Linked DNA regions of Homo sapiens: region 2 is linked to region 1. Evidence: fine-mapped QTL for protein levels in blood plasma. Region 1 holds a variant in brackets. A gene starts in the other region. All regions are shown on their reverse strands.

Region 1 (5,307 bases):
CCATCCTTTCTCTTCAGGAGCCCTGACTCCTGGCCTCTGGGGTCAGCTGGCCCCTGTCCTGACTGCCTTCTGCTTCCAGGCTCTCTCCGACCCTTCCCGCTTCTCCACATCATCACCAGCTTGGCCACTGCTTCCCAGGACACCGGGGGCCCCCAGCCCCTGCTGTGGCTTGTGCAATCCATGCTTGCTGTTTGCCACCCCTCCCTACTCCTGCAGTCCCCATGGAAGTGTCATCTCACCCCAAGCTGAGGCTGCAGGGCAGCGCCTCCCTCCCCAGGCACACGCAGCAAAGCAGTCATCAGGCCCCCTGGGCGGAGTTGCTCTCAACCCCACCCCGAGCAGAAAACCAGAAAAGAGAATCAGGACCAGCAAGCCAGGCTCTATGGCCATGCTGAAGACTTGAGTGGTCCTCCATCCCAGGCCTCCTGCCACACTGGCCCCTGGCCTCTGTTACCTCCTCAACAAGCTCCACGTGGGATCCTCATGCCCCTGCCTCTGCCCCTCCTGGCAGACATGCCCCTATCAGAGCACCAACCCAGGGCACAGGTTGCTCACAGAGGCCCCTGCAGCCCACACTGGGGCAACCCAGAAAGCTGCCAGCCTCCCGCTGCCTTCTCCCCGGGTCCATGCTAGTGCTGAGGGTGGTGTCTCCTGTCTCCGTGTCTCCTGTGTCTGCTGACACTCATCCAGAGCTCCCCAACACCTTCCCCCCTCGGTGGCTCCTGGTGCCTGGCACACCTCCTTGGATGGAGGGGAGGCTGAGTGGGGACAGCCCCTCCCTCCAGTCCCTCTCCAGGAGCCATGCAGGGAAGGCTCTGTGCAGAGAGGAGGGGCCTGCACATCGCCCTAGGCCAAACCTCAGGAAGCCAGGCAAGGAGGAAACACACACAGGCAGGCTGGGGACTGGGAAGAGATGGCACCCCGGGGCACTCGCCCCCACAGGACCCCCTGCTCTCCCCCTGCCCACCTCCCTGGTGACCGTTGTCCAGCTAAGAGGGCACCCCTCCCCCAGCCGTCAGCAGCGTGTGGAAACGTGGGCTGGGGATCCCAGGATCGGAAGGCACCTTCAATGCTGCTGCCCAGCTCTCCAGGGTGCAGACAAGGCACTGAGGCCCAGAGGTGTTAAGAGCCTTCCATGGACATGCTTTGGCTCTGAGTTCCGCTGAGACAAGCCCTGTGTTTTTCCAAGGAAACTTACTAGGAATCTGAGGAGAAACCAACCCAAATCAATCCAATTCAAAAGCAGAGAACCAATGAGCTGCCACAGCAGTTTCCCTTTCTTCATGGAACTAAACCTAGAGACGTTGTCGTCTATTGGTCAAGGCAAGCTCTGCTGAGGCCCAGCCCCTTTTCTCAGTCTGACTGTTGAACCAATGCGAGCACCTCCCGTTTCAATCCCTAAGTGTCCACCATTCCACCTCCTCTTGGTCCCCTCCCTGTCACCCCTACAGCTGTCCTGGCCACTAATTGGTAGGTAACCAATGGCTTCGTGTGCAAGTCCTGGGGTGGCAAAGGGATGTGCCAGCTTAACCAGCAACACTGCCAGCCAGGGGCGCCAGCTCCCTCTGGCCGGAGGGCAAATGGCTGCCACCCTACCCCCACCCCTTGATACCTCCTCCCAGCAGCATCTTCAGAGGCCAGGGTTTGAGGTCTTTCTCCTCCCTTTAAAGAAAAAGACAGCAAGAGGCTTACAACCCAGAACTGATACCTAGCTGTCCCCACTCGCCCACACTGACGAACGCAGGGTAGGCTGGGGAGGGGCTCAGTCTTTCAAAGGAACTTTCCTGGCCTTTAAGACTGTGAACTGCTGATCGGGAACGATGGCTCACGCCTGTAATCCCAGCACTTTCGGAGGCTGAGGCGGGCGGATCACCTGAGGTCAGGAGTTTGAGACCAGCCTGGCCAACATGGTGAAACCCTATCTCTACTAAAAATACAAAAATTAGCCAGGCATGGTGGCATGTGCCTGTAATCCCAGCTATTCGGGAGACTGAGGCAGGAGAATCGCTTGAACCCAGGAGGCGGAGGTTGCAGTGAACTGAGATCGTGCCACTGCCCTCCAGCCTGGGTGTCACAGCCAGACTCCATCCCAAAAATAAAAGACCGTGAACTGCTGGTGACCCCTTCCTGGGTAACAACAACAGCAAACACCAAACAGGGCTGGGTGCCAGGCTCTGCTCCAAGGCCTCTGCCCACATTCACCCAGCTCAAGCCCATAACAACCCTCAGAGGGGCCGGTACCATTATCCCCATCCTACAGATATAAGAGAGGCAAAGTCAGTTGCTCAGCAGAAGGGATGGAGCCAGGACTCGGAGCAGCAGCAGTCTGGGCGGTACCGAGCACATGAGATGTGGGGGATCTCACATGTCACTCTGTGGGTGGAGCTGGACGGGGTGGGAGTGGGGTGAGTGGAGGGGTGGGAGCAGTGAGAGGAGACCTGGATTGACCCTGGCTGGGCAGCTCCTGTGTGTCCTTGGCCAAATCACTTGACTTCTCCGGACCTCAGTGAGAGCCCCAAGCTCTCCCTGCCCCAGCATTCTCTAGTTCTATTCCTGATGGATTCCTCAAGGCCCTAAATCATGTGCTCCGACCCCACTTGCAGCTGTAGAAGGGCCAAGGCTGTGTGGAAGATCACCCCCGACTCTATCCTTACCCTCCCTGTCCCTACCCCCACTCGGCTTGGGCAGGAGACAGGCCACAGAGACTCAGCAGGGGTGAGGGCTTGCCTGCCCAGTGTGTGGGCCTCTCTTGCCAGGAGGGGTGCAAGGATGCTCAGAGGGGCAGCCTTGAGGGAGAAGCTGCAGACCTGGAGATGGAGGGAAAGGGGCCTCTCTCCTTAGAGAGGTGGCAGTGGAGAAGCTGTAACCCTGCTCCCTGGACCCTGAGACTTGGACACCTGAGGGCCACAACTGATGCCCAGCAGACCTGCGGGGAAGCTACTTAGACCTGCAAACACTAAGAGCCGGATGTCCTCTATATTCACCCGAGAAAGGGAAGGGAAGGAGAGAACATA[C/T]GGAACAAACAAGGGCAGTGACCATAGTCATTTTTCAAAAAAAGCCAGGGCCTATGACTCACTGGCCGCTGTGTGATAGAGCATTCCTGTTTAATGCCAGAGAGAGCTCCATCGTGCCAGCCCCACCCCTCATCTCCGGTCTTCCTGTCCCCTGGCCCTCCCTTCTCCGTGTCTGCCTGCCTCGCTCTCCTTCCTCTGCCCTTTACCTCAGTTCCCCTGCCCTCTCCTCCACCCACCAAGCCCCTGTGTCCTCCACCCTGGTCTTTGCAGTCCCAGCTAGAGCTGACCCCAGTTGGACTCGGCCTGTGCCTGCCCAGGCCCCACTGAGGCATTTCCCAGGAGGGCCCCATGTGGCAGGGGCTGCCCCCGCAGGAACGGGGTGAGATCATGGGGGGATAGTAGGCCATTCCCCATCCGTCATCAGCTGTGCCCGCTTCTCTCCCACAGAGTCTGTGCCGATGGCCGTCATCATTGGGGTGGCCGTAGGAGCTGGTGTGGCCTTCCTCGTCCTTATGGCAACCATCGTGGCGTTCTGCTGTGCCCGTTCCCAGAGAAGTACGGGAGGGAGATCCGGGATCTCAGGGAGGGGGACAGAGAAAAAGGCCAGGCTTAGGCTGCCCCGGAGAGCAAGTAAGCAGGAGTGCAATGAACAGGGGTCCTAACAGTGCTGTGAGCTCCTGGGGCAGGGAGTGGGTCTGATGCATCGGTGTATGTGAGCCTGGGCAACATGGCGCCTGGCAGAGTGGGCGCTAGGCTGAGGTTGACCTGGACTAGACTGAACTTCATCTGCAGGGCAGCCAGCATTTTGGATTGAACACATAGCTCTTTCAGTCAGGAACTGTACAGAAAGATAGGGGGAAAAGCGGTTTGTGGTTTGATCCTTGCTCTACAAGAGCTGTTAGTCTAGAGAGACCCCATCTCTACAACAAAATAAAAATAAAGAGCTGCTAGTCTCACCAGAAAAGCAGGTCACTCACACAGCTGTGGGGGAGTGGGTGGGGAAGCAATAAAGGAATTGCTTTGAGAAAACTTTTAAAGGTCTTCAGTGATTACCAATAAAATTCTAGTGTTTGTGCACGCTTGAAGAATTGCGTGCACCGAGGAGATAACGTGTGAGAGATTGGATGGCAGAGAACAGGTGAAGACAATGGAGACACAGTGTTCCAGTCCCACCTCTTCTGCCACATGACCCTGGGCCAGCCACAGTTATTCCAGGCCTGTCTCCTCATTTATAATGAGGATATGACTCTGATGGCCCCATCTGGCACTAACATTATATAAGTGTAATGCAAAAAATGAATCACCAGAATGGGTCTGCTCCTCTGCCACTCGGCAGCCTGCACATGTTTGAAGAAAGCTGTTCCCCTTGCATTTTCTGCACTCCGAGCTAAGCAGCCTTGGCTCTCAAGACCACCCCAGCAATGATGTGGTCTCAGGACCTCCATCACCACCGTCTCAGTGGAAATTATAGGGAAGCATACAAATATATACACATACGCATATATACACATATATATACGGTTTTTTTTTATATAGGGTCTCTCTCTTTTGGCCAGGCTGAAGTGCAGTGACACGATCTCAGCTCACTGCAACCTCCGCCTCCCAGGTTCAAGCGATTCTCGTGCCTAAGCCTCCTGAGTCGCTGGGATTACAGGCGTGTGCCATCATGCCTTGCTATTTTTTTAATTTTTTGCAGAGACAGGATTTCACCATGTTGCCCAGGCTGGTCTCGAACTCCTGGCCTCAAGTGGTCCGCCTTCCTCGGCCTCCCAATGTGCTGGGATTACAGGCGTGAGCCACCGCACCAGCTCCTCAAGAATTTCCTTTTTTTTTTTTGAGACAGAGTCTCATCCTGTTGCCCAGGCTGGAGTGCAGTGGCACAATCTCGGCTTACCGCAGCCGCTGCCTCCCGGGTTCATTCAAGCGAGTCTCATGCTCAGCCTCCCGAGTAGCTGGCATTACAGGCACCCACCACCACGCCCAGCTAATTTTTGGATTTTTAATAGAGACGGGGTTTCACCATGTTGGCCAGGCTGGTGTCAAACTCCTGACCTCGTGATCTGCCCACCTCGGCCTCCCAAAGTGCTGGGATTACAGGCGTGAGCCACCGCACCCAGCCAAGAATTTTCTAACAGAGCTCTCCAACTAGAAACAGCCTGCCTCCTGCAGAAGTAGCAGTAAAGCTTCCATCACGGAGGCGTCGACAGAGAAGCTGCCCACTGCCTCAGGGGCGTTTCTCTTTGGATGGGGGTTGGCCATGGGCACTTTGAGGTCCTTTCCAACACTGAGATTT
Region 2 (5,351 bases), not on the chromosome of region 1:
TTATTGGGATTTCCTCCCTCTACCTAAGACTCTGCAAAGGTAACTTAGATGTTAGCAGAGTAGAGCTTTTTTATGGGAGAGAGGGAACTAAGGCTTTCAAAACTAAGCACTCAGGGGTAAAATAAGCCTTCGCAGAGGTAAGGGAACAGAGTGCCTCAGGAAGGCAGGAGGACACCACTGCCCCTGCTTCCCGGTCACATTCACCAAATATAACTTCACTCCTCGATAGATGCTTTTGCCACGTGTGGTTGTGGCCAGTGCTGCTTTCCACTAAACCCAATAATCTCCTGTCCACAGGGTGGCCTTGGTTAAAATTCTAACATTTGTCTTGGGGTCCCCAATCTCTTCTTTCTGGCTATCTCTCTGTCTCCCACTCCCTTTGCCATAAAAGTGAGAATGAGTGGGCCTGGGCACACAGCAAAACTGGTTAAAGTCTTTGATGCCTGATTAAAGGGTGTGGAGGAGAGGACAAGAGACTTCCAGGAAGAGACAATAAAGCCAGGAAGGGTGACACCTCAGAGATTAAATAGCACTGGTGGCAGACACCGGGGTGTGCCTGAGTTTGCACCGTCTTCTTTCCTCTTTTCATTCCCATCTATGTAGCGGATGCTTCCCCCATGCGAGAAACTGCCAAGAGGGTCCATGTGAGGCGAGGCTTGAAAACCGGCAATCCGGTAACAGCTAGCTACATCTTCAGAGCTTGGGAGATTCAGTGGAGCCTTGAAGCACCTCTAATCAGCCTGTTTCTTGGGGGTATATTTTGGATTATTTGAAGAGGGAGATGATATTCATAATATTCAACATGCCCAACTATTCAAATCTTACCCAATTTCCTCTTCAACTCCCCCTGATTTGCCCCCACCCTCAAAAAACAAGCAATTGCCTCTTATGAAATCCTGATAGGAAAAAGCAGGTGAAGAAGCTATAGTCTGGTTGTAATCCCACTCCCACGCAGCGCTGGCCCAGGGCCTCTCCACGAGAGGAAAGCTGGGTCTGTCTATGGCCCCTTCAGCAGCCCAGGTAGCCAGAGGGGAGCCCATCAGCTCCCAGTATCCATGTACCTGATTTGCAGTGACAACCTCGGGGGCAGGGACACAGAAAATACTGTGGGAGAATGCAGGTAATTGTAAGGATGAATGGATTTTGAATAACATACCTCTGGTTAAAACAAGTACATATATTATATACATATAAATTATATACATACATGTACATATTGTAAACCAAAAAGTAACTGAAGCATATCTCAACAGATTAGAGGTTTATTTTGTCCCAGGTAAAAGAAACACAAATCACTGTAGGATCTGTGACCTGCGCTTTTTCCAAAGAGAGTTTTGGGAACTTCCATCTTTAGAGGGGAAAGAGCAAGCAGGAGGGGAAGAAAATAAACGAAAGATGGGTTGGCAATGAGACAAGTGTTTACATTGTGGCAAGGCTCTGTAACACTCAGTGAGTCTACACTTTACATGTAAAAAGAAGGGACTAGAGGGAAATTATGCATGGATCTCATGCTCAGTACATCTACATTTTATATAAGATAAAGTAAGCATGTGAAATTACAGGTATTTGGGAACAAAAGGAAGGCAGTTTTTGCATGACTCATTTCCCAAGCTTAACTTTCCCTTTGGCATAGTGAATTTGAGGTCTCAAGATTCTATTCTTCTTTCACAGTATTTTACATATATTTATATATAATATATATAAAAATATCTATATTTATATATAAAATATAAAAATATCTATATTTATATATAAAATATAAAAATATCTATATATATAAAATATATAAATATATATAAATAATATATATATTCCACATATATAATATATTGTAATTATATATATATACTCTACATATATTATATATTATATATAGTCTACATTTAAGTTACTGTTACTCACCTATCTCTTCCACTCCTCATTTCTCTTATCCTTCGAATATTGGGATCTCTCCCTGAAGCTTTCTCAATTTAGAAATAATCAGTTTAGAATTTAGAATAATCAGTTTGCCCTTTGACCTTAGAGAAAATTTGCTTTTGAATCAGGAACTTCTGGGAACTGTGGCTTAGGGATCAACTTTACCTAGGCATGGCTCCACCTGCCTTGCTTGTTTTTTCCTTTGTCCACTTTCTCCCTGCCTATGCACCGGGGATCCAGGGTCTGTTCTCACTGCATCCTCTCCCTACTGCTCACTGTCCCTGGGGTCCCTTCCAGCCCCCATGTCTCAGAACCCAGGACACAGTTATCTCAGTGGAGAGCTGTGATGGTCAAGGATGTCTCAGGAAGAAGAGGGCAAGAAGAGTACAGGAAACTTGGGTAGAACAAGGAATCTCGGGGCATAACAACAAAAGAAATCATGGTTTGGAGTAGCAGGTAAGGGAGTGGGCTCTGGATATCAACTGCCTGGTTTCAACCCTTAGCTCTGTGCTTTTGAATGAGATAAAATCCCCAGATTCTCAATTTCCTCATCTGTAAAATGGGGATAATAGGAGTACCTATTTCATAGGCTGTTGTACGGATTGAATAATCAATAGGTGAACATACAAAATGCTCAGAATATGGCCTGGCACATAGTAAGCACTCAATAAATGTTAGAGATTATAATTGGGGGTCCAGGACATATATATGTAAGTAAAATAGAAACTTCATCACCACTGGGGCTATTTTTAGATATCTTTGAACTAATTTTAAAAAGGGGAAGAGATAAACTATAAACTTAGTTATGAAAAATTCGCAATAATAAAGTTAGTTATCTAGGGATGTTAACGACTAATTTCTATTAGCAATATAATTATTAGGTACTTTATTGATATCGAAGATAAATTGTTTTTTAAGATTTGGCTACTCTATACATTTGACCATGCTTTTTAAAAATAGCAGATTATGTATTCATACTTTATTAAAAATAAAATACATACAGATAATGTATTAACCCAACTTGACATTCTGCCCTAAAATCTAAATAAACACTATATGAGTGATTACTCTTCTGAATTTATTGAAGCAACAACCACATTGAGCTAAGTAAAGTGGGATAAAGAATTGGAATAATGTCAGTATCTGGATCATGTAAGAGAGTGGTAAGGTGGAGGGAATAAATTCTATGCTTTTTGATAGGGGTTGAATTAAATTCGTTAATTAAGTTATTTTTTTCTAATCAGTTGTCTTTTTTGGAATTTTTCTTCTCTTTTCTTGTTTTTTTTTTGGGTCTTGACATCTTTATGAACACAGAAAGACCAGTGCTAACAAGTAAAGAGAAAAACGAGGCTTTTACCACTACTCGTTCAGGTCTGCTGACAGTACATTTTTAGATAGACCTCCTATTTTGAAAGGCTGTAGATATAGAATATTAGCTTGACTTGAGCTCTGAAAACCTACAGAATATGGAAATTAAAATGATCCCCATTTACTGTTACCATCATTTAGATAGGGTAAGATGCAGAGATGGGGAATGTATACAATCACCCAGAAGAAATGTCAAAATGAAGAGCAGGAATATAGGATACCACATACATCTCCTTCTGTTGCATTTGGAAACAAATTTCTTTTCTTTTCTTTTTCTTTTTTTCTTTTTTTTTGAGATGGAGTCTTGCTCTGTCGCCCAGGCTGGAGTGCAATGGTGTGATTTCAGCTCACTGCAACCTCTGCCTCCTGGGTTCAAGCGATTCTCTTGCATCAGGCTCCCCAGTAGCTGGGATTACAGGCATGCGCCACTACACCCCGGCTAATTTTTGTATTTTTAGTAGAGACAGGGTTTCACCATATTGGCCACGCTGGTCTGGAACTCCTGACCTCAGGTGATCCACCCACCTCAGCCTCCCAAAGTGCTGGGATTACAGGCATGAGCCATCATGCCTGGCCTAGAGACAAGTTTCTTTAAACTGTATTCTTGTTACTATAAAGGTGAAAAAAAGGGAAATTGAAAAAAACTTTAAAATCCTGAAAATAATAATGAAGGATATAAAAATTATCCCAAATCCTGCCATCCAGAGTTAGTCACTGTTAACATTGTGGAAGAATTTTTATTCTTTGCACATTAACATTTCAAAAATTTTAAACAAAATTTTGACCAATTAAATATATATATATAGTTTTCCGTTTTATTTTTTTTCTTTTCTTTTCTTTTTTTTTTTTTTTTTTTAAGACAGAGTTTCACTCGTTTCCCAGGCTGGAGTGCACTGGCGTGATCTTGGCTCACTGCAACCTCCACTTCCCGGGTTCAAGCGATTCTCCTGCCTCAGCCTCCCGAGTAGCTGGGATTACAGGCATGCGCCACCATGCCCAGCTAATTTTGTATTTTTAGTAGAGATGGCGTTTCTCCATGTTGGTCAGGCTGGTCTTGAACTCCCGGCCTCAGGTGATCCGCCTGCCTCGGCCTCCCAAAGTGGTGGGATTACAGGCGTGAGCCACTGTGCCTGGCCTCCTTTTTATTTTTTTCACTGAACAAACCATGAAACTTTCCCAGATGTAAATATCTATTTCCCATTTTTCTTTTTTTAAAATAAGGCATTATTTTAACCATTTGAGTGTTAGATATTATTTTTAGATAATATTTTAATTTAGGCATAACTGCCGTGCAAAATCTGAAGATTAATATCTACCTTGTGAGTCATTCCTCTGTGAGACAGTGCATGTTAAATATGTTGAATTGGCAGGTGAAAAAGGAAGAAAAAATGAGTAGTGATTGGTTATCCACAGCTATGAATGAGAAATTGAAGGTAGTAGACTATGGATGACAAACCTATTCTTGGTTTCCTTCTGTTTCTGAAATTCTAATTACTACCACAACTACATGAGAGACACTACTAACAAGCAAAGTTTTACAACTTTTTAAAGACATAGACTTTATGTTATTATAATTAAAAATCATGCATTTTTGTCATATTAATAAAATTGCATATACGATATAAAGGCATGGACAAAGGTGAAGTAGCTTCAAGAGACAGAGTTTCTGACATCATTGTAATTTTAAGCATCGTGGATATTCCCGGGAAAGTTTTTGGATGCCATTGGGGATTTCCTCTTTACTGGATGTGGACAATATCCTCCTATTATTCACAGGAAGCAATCCCTCCTATAAAAGGGCCTCAGCCGAAGTAGTGTTCAGCTGTTCTTGGCTGACTTCACATCAAAACTCCTATACTGACCTGAGACAGAGGCAGCAGTGATACCCACCTGAGAGATCCTGTGTTTGAACAACTGCTTCCCAAAACGGTAAGTGCAGAACGCTTTATAAGGGCAGCCTCGGGCCATGAAACACAGATATGCAAAAGGCCTTCTAATAAAAACCACATCTGTACAAGCTCTTATTGTATTGTAGCTAAAACCTGTCTTTTCTCTTTGACCTAAAT

Which allele goes with the higher level. Positions count from the first base shown, and alleles are read on the strand shown. Strength reflects both the effect of a copy and how common the allele is.
With allele T in place of C in region 1, the plasma level of the protein whose gene starts at base 5,106 in region 2 is lower (weak association).

The links. PIP is the chance, under the fine-mapping model, that this variant and not a neighbour inherited with it causes the effect. Protein levels are from antibody-based Olink assays in UK Biobank. Linkage for the fine-mapping came from a reference panel and not from the study's own genotypes, which makes the PIPs less certain.
Region 2: SELE starts here. The variant in region 1 is fine-mapped to the plasma level of the SELE protein (UK Biobank, PIP above 0.99).

Annotation. Positions count from the first base shown.
Region 1 is chr11:126,429,681-126,434,987 of GRCh38, reverse strand. KIRREL3 (kirre like nephrin family adhesion molecule 3) reads left to right here. Exons shown (of 17, transcript NM_032531.4): 14 at 3,462-3,569. Among named protein-coding and RNA genes, the nearest start is that of ST3GAL4, 77 kb to the right of the region's middle. RefSeq lists a silencer at 336-501. The variant C/T (reference allele first, on the strand shown) is at 3,015.
Region 2 is chr1:169,733,834-169,739,184 of GRCh38, reverse strand. SELE (selectin E) reads left to right here and starts at 5,106. Exons shown (of 14, transcript NM_000450.2): 1 at 5,106-5,214.